Homo sapiens: one gene and its partners. The protein of the gene in region 1 purifies or fractionates together with the protein of each later gene. This does not show direct contact. Each region holds a gene or a part of one and is shown in the gene's direction. Other genes may lie near its edges. The genes, in order: DCTD, ENPP6 and MT1X.

Region 1 (3,725 bases):
GTCTGATGAGAAGCAGGCTTCATTCAGCCCATGTGCCTGATGAGAACATCTGGCTCAAGCTCATTGCTGGCAAGCAGGAATCAAACTGTGAACTAGACATCAGGAGATGGAGGATCCAGTTGCTTCCTCCAGTTACAGGGGATGCTGCAATTTCACAGTAGGCTGTGGTCAGACCAAAAGCCAGAAGTGAGGCTGGGCACGATGGCTCACGCCTGTAATCCCAACACTTTGGGAGGTGGAGACGGGCAGATCACCTGAGGTCAGGAGTTCGAGACCAGCCTAGCCAACATGGTGAAACCCCATCTCTACTAAAAATACAAAAATTAGCTGTGCGTGGTGGCAGGTGCCTGTAATCTCAGCTACTCGGGAGGCTGAGGAAGGAGAATCGCTTGAACTCAGGAGGTGGAGGTTGTAGTGAGCCAAGACTGCGCCACTGCACTCCAGCCTGGGTGACAGAGCAAGACTCTGTCTCAAAAAACAAAACAAAAACAAACAAACAAAAAACAAAACAAAAACAAAGAAAAGAAAAAGCTAGAAGTGTAGAACTGTAAACCTTTGGCTTGACTGTCTCTGGATTTTCCCCTTGAAATTAGGGAAGGCTGCTTCTTAGAGTTTGTTGCCTGTCTAAGCCCCAGGGAAAATTCCTTCAGAGATTGCCTGGGAGGGTCCAGCCATAGCTTTACTTTTCCTTGCATTCCTTGGAGAATATGCAAGCAATGCTGGAAAAGAGGCAAATCATGCTGGGTATGCAGGTTGCTGATTTTTGTAAGGTTAGGCCCTGTATTTTATGTCTGAGAATGAACAGACTGGCGCTGTTGGAAGTGAAGGGAGAGTAAGGCCATCCAAATGGGAAAGATTGTGTCTTCAGGCCAAGGCGTGATGTACGACCTTTCTTCTTTGTTGACTCTCCTGGTAGGTTTTCTTCTGGGTTTTTCTCATGAAGAATCCAAGTCAACATTTAGTCTAATTTATATATTTTTACTAATGTTCCTGGACCTCAATCATGTTAAATAAGCCCCATAAATTTCTTTCTAAATTGCCTAGGGGCAACTTCTCCATGTTTGAAAGAAAAAGTTAAGAGGTACCTGGAGAGAGAGGAGGAACTGAGGACTGCAAAGCAGTCTGGGTTTCCAGGATGTGAAAAGTAGTTTAGGGATGAAGGGGACCGAATCCTCAGATCCTTGATTTAACCTCACCCTCCCTCGTCGGAGTGGGAAGAGAGGATGGAGTTGGGGGAGGGTAAGACTGTCTTCTCAGCACAGCTTCAGAGCCGGTGGTAGTGGATGACTAATTAGAAAAATGCGCGGACTCAGAAACTGTCACCCTGATTTTGATTCTATAAGCTTTTGATGGTAAGAAAGAAGGGAAGTGATTAGTTGTTTTTAAGTCCATGCAAAGATAATTTTTCACAGTGCGGTTCAAAGTCCCCTATAAAAATGGTGAAAGTGGAGGGTCGATATGTTAAAGGTCTGCATTGAACTGTGTGACGGCCACAGTCAGTATGTCACCGAGTCTGGGCAGTGAAATATTGGCCCTGGGGCTGGACTTTGATATGGAGGAATTCTGGGGGGATGGCGGTCCGTCATACTCAAGCTGGTGCAAAAGATACCCGTGGTTGGACAGTGCGGAGGGGTCCTGGGTGAGCACTGAGTGGGCCTCCCAATGGGGCCTGTGCCTTCTTCAGTCACCCAGAGCCCCCAGCAGATCTTTAAGCAGTGACCTGGAAGCCAAGGGCCATGCAGTACATTTGCAGCACCTGCCCCACACCCCAGACTTCCCAGCTCTCCTGACTTCCCGTGTAGCTGATTTTGTTGGTTATGAGACACTGCCTTTTGTCCAAATTGAGGAGAGTACCTTTCAGAGCCCCTTTCTAGAAGGAATTTTTTTAAAAACCTGCATAGGTATTTGTCCAACTTCACCGATTGTTTTTTATTGAATAGCTCCTGAGCTCCTGGGCACTGGTTGTCTGTCTGCATTATTTTTTATTATCCATATGATACCTCTAGGTTTTCAAAGCTCTTTGCTCTTACTTATCAATTATTCATTTATATGTAGCTGTGTTAGAATGTCGACAGTTTTCTTTCACGAGAGTAAGCTTGTAATTTGATGTACCATAAAAGTTGTAGAAGGTATTAAATGGTTTCTAAAAGGCATTTAGTATTACTGCCGCCATAATACAGTAAAGATGGGCTTAAAGTCTAAATGACGATGACTGTGTATAAACTGTACACTTGTTGTCTTCTCAAGGTTTTTCAGGCCACAGAGAAGTAAATGTTTGGATTGCCTGGGATGTCACAGAAATGTTTGCTGATAATTGACTCAAATGCAAAGTCTTTTTTTTTTTTTTTGCTTTCGTTTTAAGATTTTCAAAATTAATTTAAAAAATAAGGGGATACTGCCTGGAGTTGGATAGCTCAACCCATTCTTTCCTCATCTACATTAATGGTGACTGAGCTGCTGTAGCAGGAAGGGTAAATTCATAGGTTAATCCCTGTAAAGGAGCTTTAGAGATTATCTCGAGTTCTGGACAATGATTTTTAACTCTTTTGAATGTACAGGACCCTCTTTTAAATGCTGAAAAACTTCCAGGACCCCTGCATAATGCTAAATTCTTAGTATCTTTTGAGTAAGAAACTCCACAATGACAAAAACTACTTCGTATCAGTAACATTTTTTGTTAATCTGAACTTTATTAATTGGATAGCATTTATGTATGTTTGGGAAAAGTTTATGTATGTCCTGGACATGGGATTTATCCAGTTGTGGATATGCTTGGACCCCTTGCAATACCTTAGTAGTGTCTCAGGGTTCTATGCCCACAGGATCTAAGCCTCCTCCTTTCTTGTAAGTAACTTCTATAATGTCACACATGCAGGGTGACATCTCCTAATTCCAAGGTCAGTGCTCTTCCTGCTACCTCCCTGTGTCTCTCCTGTGGGGCACATGAATTCAGCTGTACTGAAATGCCAATCATTGTCTCATTTTTTTTTGCAGTTGATCAGACTGAGGCTCCGATAAAATAATTACTCCTCAGAGATCAGGAGCTCGGGGAGGGGTGGCCTGTGTCCGGCATCATGCAGAAAGCCACATGCGTGGCTCACTGTAACATTTCTTCAAAGGGGAGTGCAGTGGACTGAATGTGTCTCCCCCCAAATTCACATGTTGAAACCCTAATTCCAATGTGCTGATATTTGGAGGTGGGGCCTGGGGGGACGTAATTAGGCCATGAGGGTGGAGCTCTCCTGAATGGGATTAGTGCCCTTCTAAAAGGGACCCCAGGGAGCTCAGTTACTCTTTTTCCATGTGCAAGGATAGGCGGAGAAGATGGCTATCTGCAACCCTGAAAGGAGACCTTGCCAGAATCTAACCATGCTGGTGTCCTGACTTCCAGCCTCCAGAACCATGAGAAATAAATGTCCATTGTTTCTCAGCCACCCAGTCTATGGGACTTTGTTATAGCAGCCCCAAGGGACTGTGACAGGGAGCTTGAGAACTGTGTAAATTTGAGTTTACCAAATAACATACAGCTTAATACTGCTTTATTAATTCCGTAAGTCGGAAGTCATTAGTCCTGATTGATGCCTTGTGGGGAGGAGGGAAACACACACTACTTGTAACATAATAGGAAGATGGAGCTTTTCCTGGGCTGTGTCTCTAGAGAGTTATTTTTAAAGGGTGTTTTTGTTCTTCCAGTCTTGGGATCAAAACTTCATAAAACTATTTTA
Region 2 (3,725 bases), 1.2 Mb from region 1:
ATTAGGAATGGAGCACCCCGAGGGTAACTACTGGATTACATTGGATACATTCCAGGGCCATGGTCTTTCTTTGTGAGAACATTAGTCAGCAAGGCTTTCATTCAAAAGCATGGCACCCTCCATTCCCAGATGAGGGAAATAGGATCATGAATGCAAAGCAGTGGTCTGGGAAGGACTATATACAAGTGAGAGTCTCAGGAATATATATATCTATATATATATATAGATATATTTTTTTTTTTTGAGACAGTTTCTTGTCACCCAGTCTGGAGTGCAATGGTGCCATCTCAGCTCACTGCAACCTCCACCTCCTGGGTTCAAACAATTCTCTTGCCTTAGCCACCTCAATAGCTGGGATTCCTGGAGCCCACCACCACGCCTGGCTAATTTTTATATTTTTCTTAGAGATGGGGTTTCACCATATTGGCCAGGCTGGTCTCAAACTCCTGACCTCAGGTGATCTGCCTGTCTCAGCCTCCCAAAGTGCTGGAATTTCAGACGTGAGCCACCACGCCCAGCCGAGTCTCAGGAATATTTTAAAGCAGAACCAAATCTAGCCCCAAACCCCAAATTTTAAACAAGGTCCCCAAAGCTGCATTAGCTTAAAGTTAAAATTTGGTGAAGAGATTCTGTCCATTAACAGAGGCCTCCATCACAGGTTCCTGTAACACTAAAAGCGCCCAGTCTTTTACAGACAGATAGATGACCCCTGATGAAAATGGACTGCGCTAATTGCAAAATGTTTCCAGGCAGATACAGCGTGGAGAGCCTCCCGCAAACCATCACGTTCTGGCTCCAGTTCTCATGAAAGATTAAACAGCTTTACACACTGGCTGTTTACTGAGAAGAAAATTTAAGAGCAAGGCCTTTAATAGCTATCTGGCTGCACTTTGAGATAAAGGTGCATCCCTCCTGATTAACTGTATGTGCTTCTCCCTTAGGGGGAAAGCTGGGCATCATTGCGGCTGCCCAGATGCAGCCTCAGAAGTCAGTGAGTCTGGTCCAGCAAAGAGAAAGGGAAGTAATTCTGCAGGAGAGCCTCACTCTTGTTAATCCCAGTTTCTAATTTGAACAGTCTAATCTTGCCCTGGAGAACTCCACGTTTGAGATAAGACAGCAGGAGTGGGAGTCAGTGAGCTGCCTGCGAGCTAGCAAGCCCCACTGGGAAGGCAGCCCCAGGTGGCCAGCCACAGTGTAAGCCTGCAGAACCTCCTCTCTGTAAGAGACACACCTCTCATATCCAAAAAAATGTAAACACGCGAGGATAACTTGGACTCTCTGTCCATGTCTGAAATGCCATCTTCAGCTAGTAGAGCCTGTCTGGGTCCTCAGTTGGATCAGGCATTGTTTTGCTCTTCAGGAATTTTCTAAAAGCTTTCTCATTCCAGCCTGGATTATTTCTGCACTGAGCCCAAAGCACTATCCCTGCGCAGCAGGAGGCCACGAACTAGGTGGGATGGGAAAGAAATCTCAATCCTCCTTTATGCTTAAATGCACAGAATTCGATTTCATATTTCCAGTGTAAAAAGATAATATTTTCTAATACTTTTGTCAGAAGAATTTGATCTCAGTTTTTCCTGTGAAGTGTTAAAGAAGAGGATTTTTGTTTTGTTTTGTTTTTTAGAGATGGTCTTTCTCTGTCATCGAGGCTGGAGTGCAGTGGCATGATGGCTTACTTGTAGCCTCCATCTCCTGGGTTCAAGAGATCCTCCTGCCTCAGCCTCCTGAGTAGTTGGGACTACAGGCACACACCACCGCACCTAGCTAATTTTTTATTTTTGCAGAGTTGAGGTCTTGCCATATTGCCCAGGCTGGTCTTGCACTCCTCAGCCTCAAGCCATCCTCCTGCCTCAGCCTCCCAAAGTGCTTGGATTACAGGTGTGAGCCATAGTGCCCAGCCACAAATGGATATTTGAAAGCCTGTGGGACACCTGGGCTTACTCTGGTCCACTGCCTCACATGCCCTCCCACCCACACACAGCAAGGCATGGCCCCATGTGGCAGTAGAATTATCACATCCAGGTCACATGAGAAGAAGATAGAAGAGTTGCTTCCATGCCGCTGGAACAACCATTCCACTGGATTCTCGTGCTGCACTTGATTCCTCGGATAGGGAAGTGTAACTACCATCCTCATCTGATTGTCTGATCTGCCTGAGAGGGGCTGGGATACTGGGGCAGCCCTTTCTTTCTCCTCTCTGGACAGGTTTTACATTATTATTATTATTATTATTATTATTATTATTATTATTATTATTTTGAGACAGAGTCTTGCTCTGTTGCCCAGGCTGGAGTGCAATGGCACGATCTTGGTTCCCTGCAACCTCCGCCTCCTGGATTCAAGCAATTCTCCTGCCTCAGCCTCCTGAGTAGCTGAGATTACAGACACCTGCCACCACACCCAGCTAATTTTTGTAAATTTTGTAGAGACGGGGTTTCACCATGTTGGCCAGGCTGGTCTTGAACTCCTGACTTCATGTGATCTGCCCACCTCGGCCTCCCAAAGTGCTGGGATTACAGGTGTGAGCCACTGTGCCTGGCCAGGTTTTACATTTTTTAAAACTAATTTTTACTCTGAGGAGAAGCTGACCCTTATCCTCCATGCCCCTGAAGAAAAGTAAACCCTCCAGATAATTTAGAAAGTGAATATATTCAAACCACAATTTGTCCTTGTCATAAATATTTATTAATAATAGTAGTGACCATTTACTGGGTATACACAGTGTTCCAGGAACGATGACTTTCTATGCCTATTTCCGGAGGTCACCCAGCTAGTGCATGCTGGGTGCAGGCTGGCGGTAGAGCCCACACACCTCTTTATATTGGATTCAACTTTAATTCTCCAAAGGGAGCAAAACGTGCTATTTGGGCAGTTGCCCTGGATCTAACATACTATGTGGCAGAAGTATCTATATTTAGCTTTTTTCCAATTTATAATTCCAGGATAAATAGAGGAGCAGAATTTGGTGTTGATACCTCTGCAATATATTGCTGTGTGTTGTTGTTTGTTTGCTTTTTAACTAAAGTATTTAGGATTCTTTAGCAAAGCAATTACAAAGATTATTTCTAATATCTTAAAAAACTTGGCTTTACGGCCCCCAAACAACTCATTTCCTTCAAAAGTTGTAGGGGAACTAGAAAGCACAGGCACAGGCCTTTATCAATGGCTTAAATCTCCTCCCTGAATTCAACCTTAATGTAGCATTGGGTATTTTGTTACAAGCTCTGGTTTGGGGCCTAAAAGTGAAGTTGCTTTTGTGTATTACTAAAATCTTACATTCACTCTTTAAATGGACAAGTGCTTTGAATTCTGCCTCTCATCTGCCCGCTGTAGAGAAGAAGAAATCCCTTGATTGAAATCCCTCCAAAGACTTGTGGAGTCACCCTCGGCGTCCCTCACTCACCGTGCTGCGTGTGGCCACCCTACCTGTGTGTTCTTGCGTGACTCTCGAGCTTGGGGCCACTCTGGGCAGAGGCACAGTGGTCTTCTCCATTAGATCGCTCAGAGCCTGCACATGGATCCCTGATTCAGATACCAGTTTGCTCATTTTCCACATGGCTAATGTATTTTATCTGTTGGTAAAATGCTCCCAAAGAGTGTTCCACTCATCTTCCAAATGTATTTAGGAAACCATCGCCATGGCTGCTGAGCTAGCGAGCACCGAGAAAACTGCAGTTTCACATTCCATCAAGACCTGTGACCTCGATGGGGCAGCAAAGTGAGAA
Region 3 (3,548 bases), on another chromosome or scaffold:
TTCACTCCAGAAATATAAAGCCATGAGCAAGATAGTCCCTGTCCCCATCACAGAAACGGAAGGATACCTGCCAGTTCTGCTACCACCTGCACCAATATGTGACTTAACGTTTTTCTTTCAAATGATTCCTATTTCCTTAGATATTTTTATATGAAAAGCAAACTCATTAGCACCACTGAAAAAAGAATCAGTTTAACTTCCAGACATAGAAGGTTGCCATCAAATTATGCTTATTCATATCCCCTCTGCATCTCTGTTTTGCTTCCAGGACTGACCTTGATGCTTGGTTTTGTTTAAAGATTTCAAGCAGTAAAGAGATGAATATATCTAGGCCAAAGGGAAGCTTCATCATTGCTTTGGGACGCTGACCGGATTCAGACCCAGCAGTGTCACTTCGCAGCCCTCTGACCCTGGGCTGGTGGCTTGAACTCCTTTTATTGTTGTTGTTCAGATTAGAATATGGGTTCATGAATAGAAGTATGTCCCTTTAGGGTTGCTGTGAGGGTTCAACGATGCAAAGTGACTAAAAAGGGCCTAACACGGATTAATGTTATGTAGAGTAATAGGAATATGGAAGGAAAAATAACCCTGTTTCTTGCATTTTAATTTAATCCGGAATCCGCATATCACCTAAAATGATCCCTTTTCTGGGAGCATTCCACATTTTCCAAACTGTCATCCTGTGGTGGGGTGCCCGGCTAGGCTATGGGGAGACCTGGAGAGTTTTATGCAAAGGAGGACCTGGGCAAATGTGCCCATTCAGCCTCTCAAGAGTGGAGAATGCAAGGACGGGGGCAGAGCCCTGTGTCTGTTCTGTCCCTAGACATAAGAGAAACGTGGCCAACAGACCGAGGTGGGGACGGGGACAGGGACCGGCAATGCAGGAAATCCGAGTGTCACATCCTCTGCCTCTCATTTGCACACTGCTCCCTCGCTATGCTCACCGCTCCCGCCGATCCAGGGACGTGATCCAGGGACTCTGGGAAATGCAAAGCTACACACAGTGGAGCGGGGGCTGGGGGTGTGTAGACCGCCGGGATTCCGAGTTTCCCGGCACGCCTAGGAGAGGGAGAGGCAGGCAATGTCAGGGAAATTGGGCAGGCAAGACGCCAGGGACGCCACGTACTGCCAGGTTCTCAACGAGGTGGAGCCAAAGGGGCAGGCCCCGCGGTGCGCCCGGCGCTGGGCTCACGGGTTGCTGCACCCGGCCCAGGATCGCGGGCGGTGCAGACTCAGCAGGGGCGGGTGCAAGGACGAGGCGGGGCCTCTGCGCCCGGCCCTCTTCCCGGACTATAAAGAGAGCCGCCGGCTTCTGGGCTCCACCACGCTTTTCATCTGTCCCGCTGCGTGTTTTCCTCTTGATCGGGAACTCCTGCTTCTCCTTGCCTCGAAATGGACCCCAACTGCTCCTGCTCGCCTGGTAAGGGACACCTAGCTCCGCGCCTTGGGATGCCCGTTTCCCAGCCACAGTACAGACTCTTCCTGGGTTTGAAGAAGTCGCATTTAAAGTTCTGAGCTGAAGGGGCTCCTTTATTTCGTTAGGTGCTTTCTTCCCGATCACGTCCCTGAGACCACTTCTCGCCTCCCTGTGCCTCTAAGTTAGAGTTGAGGGTACTGAGGCCCAAGGCTGTCCTGCTCCATGTCACCCAGTTGGTCAGGGGGCTGCTGGCTGAGCCCCAATGCTCTGACCAGGCTCTGAGCAGTCAGGGTGGATGGGAAGTGGGGGGCCATTGCCTCTTCGGAGTTCAGGACAGAAGGTTCTGGCCTCCTGTCTTAGCCTTCCTGGGCTGTGTCTGGAGCCTGGGACCTTGCTTGTGGGGTAAAAGCAACAGAACACTTGCCCTTCCCAAAATGAAGGGAGAGGAGATGGGGCTTCTCTTCCTCTCCCCTGAGTGGGAAAGGAGCTCTGGGGGCTGGTCCTTCAGCACAGAGGAGGGGTCACTGAAGCGTTATTGACCAGCTGCTGTACCTTCTGCATCTCACTCCACGCTCACTGCCTTTTTCTCTTCCTTGCAGTTGGCTCCTGTGCCTGTGCCGGCTCCTGCAAATGCAAAGAGTGCAAATGCACCTCCTGCAAGAAGAGTGAGTGCAGGGCCTTCCCTGCGAATCTGGGGGATGGGCCAAGTTAGAGCAGGGAACCCAGAGCTCTGCAGGCAGGGGCAGGCCAATGACCAGCTTCCCCAAACCCCTCCTTCAACACCTGATTCAGAATCAGACCTCAAATTGCCTTAAAAATGGGTGAGTCCCAGCCTCTTATTACCAAACTAGAAACTGAGGCCCAGAGAGGTTACCAGATAGTGTTGGGAACAAAGCTGGAATGTGAACCTAGGTCTCCTGCCTCCTGATGCAGCCTTCTTCACCCTTCTGGGTCCTGAAGCACTTAAGGCCCAGGATCTGGAAGACCCCGGGTGATTTCAAACCTAATGATCCAGTCCTTTCCTGCAGGGGTAGCCCAGAGCTTCCCTAGCCTTCCCCAGAACTGCTGTGTCAGGGATTTGCCCCCTGTCCGGCTGTGAAGACTTTCCTCATTTAAGGGTAGGTTTTGGGGAACTGGCCTCCTTTTGTTCCTGTACCCCCAATCACTACCTGTCCAGTCTTCTGTCCTGTCCCAGACTCAGGTGGGGCTGGGCAGCTTTTTCATATAAAACCCTCATCCCAAAGATCTACCAGTTCTCTTCTGACAAAGCCATGCCATCCTGAAATGATGGTCCTCTGGGGCTGGAGGCAGGGCTCGAGCCAGGCCTCTGTTGGGGCAGGGAGGTGCCTGATTGAGTCTGCTCTGACCTCTCACTCTCCCCTTCTTCTCCAGGCTGCTGCTCCTGCTGCCCTGTGGGCTGTGCCAAGTGTGCCCAGGGCTGCATCTGCAAAGGGACGTCAGACAAGTGCAGCTGCTGTGCCTGATGCCAGGACAGCTGTGCTCTCAGATGTAAATAGAGCAACCTATATAAACCTGGATTTTTTTTTTTTTTTTTTTTGTACAACCCTGACCCGTTTGCTACATCTTTTTTTCTATGAAATATGTGAATGGCAATAAATTCATCTAGACTATTCTGGCTCTGGGCACCTCATTTGTCACTGGGTATATGGCACTTGGTTCCAGTTGGATTGTAGGAAACCCAGATTGTGGGGCATTTCAGAGAGGGGACCATGGCAGTGGGGGTCTGGGTGCAAGGTTCCTGCAATCCTGCCTGGCCTTGGCTCTCCTTTGTGAACTATGGCAAACTAGGGGGTTTATTCTACCACCCTCTAGCAACGGTTAACTGGTAGTAGCTGCCCTTTTTGTGTAGCTGTGACACAGCCTATACTCACCAGCCACCTATGGTGCACCTACTGCATACACAGGCATGGGGTCCTCAGTGGTGAGGGGAACAGGGAGCTTATGGACTGCTGGGGGGAGAGAGAATTATAGAATAAGGAATCTTATAAAGGAGAAAGTACTGTGACTGAATGCACTTGGGGTGAGCCCAAATGAAGAACTCTTTCCACTGGGATCTGAGAGCTGCATTCCTGCAGAGGGCACAGCTCCAGCAAAGGTCTGGAAGTGGGGA

The links.
Region 2: the proteins of DCTD (region 1) and ENPP6 purify together in Homo sapiens (co-immunoprecipitation; one large-scale study listed by IntAct). This does not show direct contact.
Region 3: the proteins of DCTD (region 1) and MT1X fractionate together in Homo sapiens (co-fractionation; one large-scale study listed by BioGRID). This does not show direct contact.

Annotation. Positions count from the first base shown.
Region 1 is NC_000004.12:182,910,773-182,914,497, reverse strand, and holds part of DCTD (deoxycytidylate deaminase), read left to right. Parts: intron 1-3,725. UniProt on the Homo sapiens protein: Catalyzes the deamination of dCMP to dUMP, providing the nucleoside monophosphate substrate for the thymidylate synthase/TYMS.
Region 2 is NC_000004.12:184,092,173-184,095,897, reverse strand, and holds part of ENPP6 (glycerophosphocholine cholinephosphodiesterase ENPP6 precursor), read left to right. Parts: intron 1-2,662; exon of another isoform or gene 2,663-3,725. UniProt on the Homo sapiens protein: Choline-specific glycerophosphodiesterase that hydrolyzes glycerophosphocholine (GPC) and lysophosphatidylcholine (LPC) and contributes to supplying choline to the cells.
Region 3 is NC_000016.10:56,681,149-56,684,696, forward strand, and holds MT1X (metallothionein-1X), read left to right. Parts: upstream 1-1,321; 5' UTR 1,322-1,392; coding exon 1,393-1,420; intron 1,421-2,016; coding exon 2,017-2,082; intron 2,083-2,809; coding exon 2,810-2,901; 3' UTR 2,902-3,048; downstream 3,049-3,548. UniProt on the Homo sapiens protein: Metallothioneins have a high content of cysteine residues that bind various heavy metals; these proteins are transcriptionally regulated by both heavy metals and glucocorticoids. May be involved in FAM168A anti-apoptotic signaling.